2 separate regions of the Homo sapiens genome follow, and region 1 is linked to region 2. Evidence: fine-mapped expression QTL. A gene starts in region 2. The other region holds a variant in brackets. All regions are shown on one strand. Distances are between the middles of the regions.

Region 1 (4,382 bases), 310 kb before region 2:
AACAGACCTCTGGGCCCAGGACGCCACCCCTGCTTCTCATCACAGCCCGAGTCCCTGCTGATAATCAGGTGTGGATGTAGGCTCCAAGGGGAAGCTTGTCCAATTGTGGGATCCTCTTTAAGAAAAAAGAACACGAAATTAGATATGAAAGTGAATATTGATTTAGAGCAAAAAAAAAAAGAAATAATGAAAAAAACAGTTTAAAAGCTGACTTAGATAGTGCTAGTGGCTTCCTGAAAGCTATACAGCACCACAGATGGGCACCACAAACATCAGAAAATCCAAAAAATAGCATGACGTTTGTATTCATTAACTGCTGACACACCTCTAAAATATTTTCCAAATTCTCTCTATGTATTGGCTTTATACTCTTTGATTGCCTCTTCCCATGACAATGATTATGTGTCTATAGGGAAATTAGAAAGATCCTTTTGCAGAAAAAAACTTCCATTTTGATGAGGCATCAGCAAAAGCCAGCTTCTTCATTTCCCATTGCACATGTCTGAGGATTAGGGGCACAAGCCACAGACTAGCTTCTAGGACCTACACTTTCTCACTCTTTTCTGGGGTCGAGTGCATTTGGGCCTGTTCATCTCATGATGTGACCTCTGGCCTTGTTTCTTCATGTCATGACACAAAGGGAGCGAGTAGAGATATTCCTGGAAGTCATGCCTACACCAGAACAGCTGGCAAAAGCTAAAGTCTCCATGAGATCAATTGAAAACTGTGTAAATATATCCCCTTATGTTCATGCTAGATGTAACTCTGACACAACCTCTTCCCAGTCAGATCCCCAAATGCCCACACTTTCCCAACATCGCCTGGCAGGAGCACATGGCCGGGGAAAGAAATAGCGGAGTCAGCTGATGTGGTTCAAATACCTTGCTTTTGCAGGTTGTACAAAAACATCTGAACATGTGAGCCCATTGCTAGTGCCTCTCCTGGGGCCCTGAAAAGGGTCAGTACATGTGAGGACCCTGGAAAGGGTCAGTGTGAATGAGGGTCCTGAAAAGGGTCAGTGCATGTGAGGGCCCTGGGAAGGGTCAGTGCGAGTGAGGGCCCTGGGAAGGGTCAGTGCTTGTGAGGGCCCTGGGAAGGGTCAGTGCGAGTGAGGGCCCTGGGAAGGGTCAGTGCGAGTGAGGGCCCTGGGAAGGGTCAGTGCGAGTGAGGGCCCTGGGAAGGGTCAGTGCGAGTGAGGGCCCTGGGAAGGGTCAGTGCGAGTGAGGGCCCTGGGAAGGGTCAGTGCTTGTGAGGGCCCTGGAAAGGATCAGTGTTAGTGAGGGCCCTGGGGCTTCATCAGCATCATGGTGACTTCCCTTCCATTAGCAAACAAGCTCTGCCAACTCTTTTGGTTCTCCTCTCCTCCACCTCAAAGCTTCTCAGGGTTGGCAGAGTGGAATTCCGATTCCCAGCCCTGGCACAGGCTGGCTGTGGAGCTTTCAGGAAGCCACTAGCCTTATCTAAGCCACAACCACCCTACCTAGATGATGAGAAAACTCCAGTTGCGAAGAGAAGATGAGTTTTCTCCCTTCCATTGGATGCATCTTTTGCAAAGGGAAGAGCAGAATCAGGCTGAATAAGAAACAGCACCATTTTAGGAGCTGCAACTGACCTTTGAGATGACTTAGCTCAGTATTTCCCAAAGACTATTCTGTGGAACACTGGTCAGCTGTTCAGACAACAAAATGTATTGAACACCTGCTATATAGCAGACACTGGTCTAGGCCATACAATCATAGCAGTGAATAACAAGACAAGGCCTCTGCCCTCACCAAGGTTATATTTTAGTGAGGGGGTGGGGAAGGGAAGACCTTTGAAAAAAATAATACTGTTTCAGGTAAGGATAAATGGCTTGGAGAAGACAGTAAACCAAGGCTAGAATGGAGGTTGAGGCTGCTAAAGCAGGTCTGGGGTGGTGACATTTGAGTTGAGGCCTGGATCATGAGGGACAGCCGTGAGAAGCCCTACCAAAGGGGTGATCAGGTGGGACCCTGTCCACAGCAGTCCTTGCATGTTTGCAGGGCAGACAGAGGCCAGTTGTGCTGCAGCACAGAGGATAATAGAGGATAAGAAGAGATGAGTTTGGTAAGGGAGCTGGAGCCAGCGTGCAGGGCCTTAATCCCAGGTAAGGAGTTGGGATTTTATTCAAATGGAGCTGAGAAGCCATTGGAGGGTTTCAAACAGGGGTATGATGTGATCTGTGGTGAATTTTCACAAGATTATTCTCACTGCAAGAAGAGTCTTTTATATGGATTTAAGAGCACAGCTGAGACCAGTTCAGAGACCATTGTGTCAGTCAAGAGAGATTAGGGTCGCCGCGCTAGG[T/G]TTATAGAGGTGAAGGTAGAGAAAAATGGTTGGATTCAGGATGTATTTTGGAGGCAAAACCAACATGATTAATATTTGAACTGGCTGTGGAGTGCAAGAAAAATGAAGAATTCAAGGATGACGCCTAGGTTTTTATTTTATTGGTCTGAAAAGCTGGGTCAATTTTGGTGCCATCTGAAGGTTGAGGAATGTTGAAGGTCAGGGTTTCCATGTTGGAGCAGCTGATTTGGGAGGTACACATTGCTGTGTAACAAATTACCCGAAAATGTAGTGACTTCAAACCACAATAATGATTGATTGTTCTAACAGCTTCTGTGTGTTAGGGATTTGGGGTGCTTGCTCAGGGTGTCTGATGAGGCTGCAGCCTTTTGAAAGCCTGATTGATGCTGGAGATCTGCTTCCAAGGCATCTGTCTCACATGGCTGGCAATTTGGTGGACATCTCAGTTCTTCCCTGGGCCCCTCCAGGGGGACTGAATGAATGTGTTTATGACATGATGGCTGGCATCCCCAGAGGGAGCAAGGTGGAAGCTGCAAAGTTCTTTATGGCCTAGTCTTGCAAGTGACATGCAGTGACTTCTGCGATATCCCATTGGTCACACATGTCAGCCCTATTCAATGTACGAGGGGACCACACAGGGGCCTGAGACATCCATGCCCTTTCTTTGCACATCTACTGACCTGTTTCAGCTGCAAGTGACAGAAAACACAGTTCAAGCCAGCTTAAAATGAAAAGAAATTTATTGGCTTACACAAAAGGGAAGTCCAATGGAGGAGAGATGCCCGTTTTGTGGAGCTCAGATGGTGTCGTCAGAACTCAGTATTTATTCTTTTCTTTTCTTGGCTCCCATTCTTACATGGGCCAACTCCTGAAGATGGTGAGGTGGCAGCAGTCTCGTTAGCTTCATAGTCTCACAATGCCAAGTCAAGCTGAGAAGACAGCCTTTCTTTCCCAAGAGTTTGAACAAAACGTCCCAGACCTAATGACCATTCCTACTGACTGACTTAAAAGCCAGGATGAGGCAGGGCGCAATGGCTCACACCTGTAATCCCAGCACTTTGGGAGGCCGAGGCGGATTACTTGAGGTCAGGAGTTCAAGACCAGCTTGGCCAACATGGTAAAACCCCATCTCTACTAAAAATACAAAAATTAGCTGGGCATGGTGGCACACACCTGTAATCCCAGCTATTGGGGAGGCTGAAGCAGGAGAATCGCTTGAACCCAGGAGGTGGAGGTTGCAGTGAGCTGAGCTCGCATCATTGCACTCCAGCCTGGGCAACAGAGAGAGACTCTGTCTCAAAAAAAAAAACAAAAAAAAACCCAGGGTAACACTGAAATTTCATGGAGATAGGAAGTGGGGCCAGATCTCCCAAAACACATGGATCAAGAGAGAGACAGAGCTGTCTCTGTGTTCTGCAGACACTGTGGTGGGAGAAATCAAGTGCTCATCCATATGGAGCTCACAGTCTGGTGGGAGAACAGATACATGCATATATGAATAATTAACATACGGGTGAGAAGTGCCATGCGAAAGGGGCCAGAGTGTGCTTCAAGAGGACCTGAGAGAGGCACCTGATTCTGCTTTGGAGATGGCTCTCTGGGTGAGGTCACACCTGAACTGAGTCTAGTGGTGTAAGAAATCACTGCATGAGCAAAAGTCGAGTCAAGAAATAGCAGAGTGGGGGTGAGTGGAGGACTACAGCCAGTTCTCTGTTTTTAGAGGGTTACAGCAGAAGTGACAGAGAAATGATCTGGCCTGGGAAGCTAGGCTTGGACCACTGCCAGGCTTGGGTCACCCCAAAATGCATGTGTTGGAAACTTAATCCCCAAAGCAACAGTGTTGAGAGGCAGGGCCCAGTGGGAGGTGTTTAGATCATGCGGGCTCCACGCTCATGAATGGATTAATGCTGGTTATAAAATGGTTTGAGGCTGCAAGTTTGATCTCTTGCTCTTTCTTTGCCCTTCTGCCATGGGATAACACAACAAGAAGGCCCTTACCAGTTGCCAGCCCCTTGATCTTGAACTTCCCAGCCTTCAGAATTATGAACCAATACATT
Region 2 (4,382 bases):
TGGCTCTAGCGCCCTGAGACCTTTGACCTCTCTCCCGTTTCCCCTCAGCCTCAAAAAACAAACAACAAACAAAAAAAACCCAGCAACTCAGGCTCCTTCTGGCGCTACCGGAAAAACAAAAACGAACAAACAAAAAGCCCCTGATCCCTCCTGGACCCAGCTGCCAGGACACAGTGGAGAAGCCACTGTGATTTGTGATTAGAAGTCTCGCACCGAGCGGCACAATGTATTTCCTCCCCAAACCACGGGCTCAATTCCCTCCCCCATCCAGCCGCGCCCGCCACCGCCTGGTTTTGCCCCTGTGGTGGCACCGTCAGCCAAGGGCCTCGCGCCCTCTCCCCAGCTGTGCGTCCCACCTCTCTCGGCGCCCAAGGGAAACCTGGACATCTTTGGGGACCCGGAGAGCCGGCGAGTGATTGCTGGGACACGGCTGGAGCCGGGAGAGAGTAGCACTACGCCCCCTCCCTCCCTCCTCTCTCTACCCCTCACCCTCCGGGGCTAAATGCTGCTAGCTCAAAAACCCACAGTCCGCACGGGGTGGGGATTGGGGACAAGTGGGAGAAAACGGGGGCCCCGTCCGTGGTGCTGAAGACAAGCACGCAAGCCGCATCGCAGGCTTCTGAGCCGGGGCAAGGGGTAGGGTGTACTGTCGCGGTGCTTCCTGGGGAGTCCGGGAAGGCTTCCCAAGCGGCAGCTGTCTGGGGCGCTAACAACAGCCGTTACAAGGAAGTCCCTGAAATCCAGGGAACCCTTCGGAGAGGCCCGGAAGGCAGAAGCAGAAAATTCTGTCTCTCGGGGGATGGGGCTGGATCCCAAGAGCCAGAGACAGGGAAAGCAGAGGACAGTTGAAGCCACAGAACTGAGAGGCCCCGCTATCTGTCCCTCCAAGCAGCCCGAAGTACATGCAGCCGCCACTTCTGCCTACCACCTCCGGACAGCCCGAGCACCCCTGAGGCCAGTAACCCCCCTACGGGGCCAGGGCCCGGCACGAGGCGTCGGCTGACCTGTATGGTTTGTCTGTTGTAGACTTTTACCACGTGGAAGTTAAAACTGTAGATCCCTTTGCGCGGGGCGATGAAAGTGCTGCGTTCTGAATCAAAGTTGTTCCCAATGTTCACTAGTACCTATAACGAGACGGGAACGAAGGGGAGTGGGCAGGAATCGGTCCCGGACTGTCGTCCCCGCGCCTCCGCAGAGCCCTTGGAGAGGACCGGGCATCGGTCTTCCATCCATCCCTCCTTCACCAGCCCAATCTGCACGCCGCGGGAGGAAGGAACACTCACCTGGTCGAAGTAGATGATCATGGTGCGATTACTCATCTCGGACGGCTCGTGGTTGGTGCTCCTGATGGCAGAGAAAGCCACCTTGGCGCTGCCAGAGCGCACAGAGATGCCCAGGGCAGTGCCCGTGGGGTCGGACGTGGGGTTGGAGTCGCACACCACCAGGCACTTGCCCTCCAGCACGATGGGCTCCGTCTCATTCTGCCCGCGGGCCGGGCCCGCCAGCCACGCAGCCCCCAGCAGCAGCAGCTCCAGGACGCCCAGCATCGCGCCGCCGGCGCCCACCCCGCCCCCCACCCCCAGGGCTGCTCGCGCCAGCCGCCCCCCCCGTCCCAGTCCCGCTCCGAAGCCCCCTCCTCAGCTCCGTGCGCAGCTCCGCCGCCGCCGCTCTGGACACTACACCTCTTCCTCGCACTCCGGGACTAGCGTCCCCTCCGCGACTAGCGTCCCCTCCGCGCTGTGTTCCCGGAGCCCCTCCCGGGCCTCAGGGGTGCCGCGGCTGCCCAGCCGCACTTGGATGCATAGCCGCTGCTGCTCGGTCCCGCTGCTGCCGCCGCCTCCTGCCCGCACCCGCCGCTGCCGCCGCCGCCGCCGCTCTGAATTATTGATGCAGCCGGCGCTGCAGCCGGAGCGGGCGGAGAGCGCGCGCCGGGCACAAAGGCGCGGACCTCGGCCTGGCCCCGCCCCCGCCGCCTCCCGGCCCGCCTCCCTCCGAGGCCCTGCCCCCGCCCCGGCCGAGGCCACGCCCCCCAGCCAATCCTGACGCGCCGCGCTCCCCACCGAGCCAATGGCGGCGCTGTCCGCGCTCGGCCACCTGACCCCGGGCGCCGTTGTTATTAGGCGCGGCGAGGCGGGTGGCGCGCGGCAGCAGGGTTGGGCTCTCGCCGTGAGTCGACGAAGGGAGCGCGGGCGCGCGCCCGCGTCCGCGCACTGAGAGTCGCCTCGGCCGCTCGCTTTCTCGACTCCCGCCTCGCGCCTCGATCCTGTTCCGCCTCCCTCGGCCCTCCTGCCCGCCCCCACTCGTCGGCCCTCAGGTAGGAGGCGGCGCGCCCCGGGGTCGGGAGTGGAATCGCTGGAGGCTGCGAGTCGCCTGCCCGCCTGTGGGCGCGCCCGTTGGGAGGGGAGCGCCCCCCAGCGGGCGCGGGCGCGAGGGCAGCCGGCGCGCTGGGCGAGCCTGGCTCAGGGTCCCGGCGGCCGGGGTGCAGGGCGCGTGCGCGCGCGGCGGGGCGGGGCCTGCGCGGCTCTGGCGGGCGCACGTGGTGCCCGGGAGCTGCTGGGCGGGCACTCACCGCGGGGACTCGGTGCGGAGCCGGGGCGCCGAGTGTCTCCGTGTCCCTCTGCCCCAGCCGGCGGCCGCGATGGTGGAGCTTGGCCTCTCGCTCTCTCCCGCCTCTCCAGCGACTGCTCTGCCGGCCGCGGAGGTCGGATCGAGCGGTCATTCATTCATTTGTTAATTCGTTCACTTATTCAGGGGAGATCATTGAACCCCTACGGAGTACCGGGTACTGGGCCGGGCGCTGAGGACGCGGGGCTGAGCAAAAGCAGCCGAGGCCCACCTTCGTGCCCCTTAAAACCCAGCGTGCGGGGCGGCAACGAGTACTGCTTTTCTGTTTTGCACTTAAAATTTACATTTTGCATCCGTACTTTTTATTTACTGTGCACCCTTACGGCATGCTTTACGCACCCGTACCTGCACCTCCTAGCCTTGAGTGTAGACACCAGATCCTGAGATGGGCGATTTTTCGAGAATAATTTTTACCCTAAGTGGATTTTCGTGCCACGCATGGACTTGGAACTACACACACGTAGTCCAAAACGTGAAAGTCAAAATGCAGCTTTGCCAAGTGGCAGGGAGAAAGGAGAGCTGAGAAGATGAGGAGAGGAAGGGCGCGCTCCAGGCTTTCCAGCCCGGGTGCGGTAGACGTAGCCCTGAAGGATGAACCCAGGCTGGTAGTAGGGCGGCGGGAGGGCGGGGGGACCTGTCAGTCAAGTCCAAAGCAGAAACGCGGCGCCGGATCCCAGTCAGAGGCCGGCTGGAACGCTTCCCACAGGCTCCTGGCGCTCCGGTCCCCACCAGGCGACCTTGATCCTGGCGTGCTCAGCGGAGCCAGCGCAGCGTCGGGAGCTGGAGAGACGCGGGGCGCCGGCTGAGCGCTCCTGCCCTCTGCCTCTGGGCTAGCCTCTGGCCCGGCCTCCCGGCCTCCCCCAGGGTACGCTCTCCCCCAAGAGCGAACACCAGCTTTGGGATCGCCAGCAGCCACGTCTCTGCTTCTAGATCTCTTTTTTTTTTCTTTGAGACTTAGTTGATAGCTGTTTAAGGAATTATGTGGAGGAAATCTCACCTCCGACCCCCGCCCCCGTTGAGCACGGCCGGCCAGGGTCGCTGGGTGGGCCAGGAGGAAAGAAAGGGGCGGGGAAGAAGCAGCAATTTTACTTTAAATTAAAATGACACAAAAATATTTTTTCAACTCAGATCTTTCTGAGACATCCCCAGAAAGCGTTGCAAGCTGTGATTACACCTAATGTGAGAGCATGAACTAATTTAAGAGGTGAGAGCTGCATAATGAGGCTGCCTCCCGTGTAGCAGCCAAGACTGGCAGCTCTGGCGGCGCGCTGGAGGGGACCGGGAGGGGCACCCTTGTAGAACCAGTCCCTGGCGCCCTGGGATCTTCTCAGTGCCCTGGCGCTGTGTTGTCGGTCACTCCACAGATATTACAGGGTGCCTCCTGAATGCCGGGTTGCAATCAAGAGCAAGAGATGGGGCGAGTGAAAGAGCCTGTTTTCAGGAGCTCAGCATCAGGATGACGATTACCTAGAGGGAGGTGGTGGCCAGCCTCCCCCTCTTCTCTTCATGCTGAGGCTCTGGTGGGCAGTGCCCAAGCCTGAACTGCCATCTGTATGCCAGTGGTTACCCAACTTGTATTTTCAGTCTTAGCCTCTCTCTGGTCCAGACTTGTCATTCTAAGGGCCCTTTTTCACTGACTCACATTGTCTCCTCCCTCCCTGCCTTCCAAACTCAGCCTTTTCCTTTTTCCCTTTCCCACTGACAACAGCTGCACGACCCCCCCGCCCCCCCACGAGGTGAAAATTCCCAAGAACCCC

Evidence for each region. PIP is the estimated chance that this variant, and not a neighbour inherited with it, causes the effect. A credible set is the group of variants that fine-mapping cannot tell apart.
Region 1: its variant is the best candidate, but not a certain one, in a credible set for the expression of CBLN1 in skeletal muscle (GTEx, PIP 0.76).

The regions. Positions count from the first base shown.
Region 1 is chr16:48,965,767-48,970,148 of GRCh38, forward strand. No RefSeq gene overlaps it. Among named protein-coding and RNA genes, the nearest start is that of CBLN1, 310 kb to the right of the region's middle. The variant T/G (reference allele first, on the strand shown) is at 2,326.
Region 2 is chr16:49,279,919-49,284,300 of GRCh38, forward strand. CBLN1 (cerebellin 1 precursor) reads right to left here and starts at 1,920. Exons shown (of 3, transcript NM_004352.4): 1 at 1,284-1,920; 2 at 1,005-1,124. The coding sequence starts at 1,547. It overlaps SYNAGE (synapse stability regulating cerebellar lncRNA), which reads left to right and starts at 2,144. Exons shown (of 4, transcript XR_933530.4): 1 at 2,144-2,314. RefSeq lists an enhancer at 1,024-1,641 and silencers at 1,994-2,103, 2,474-2,573.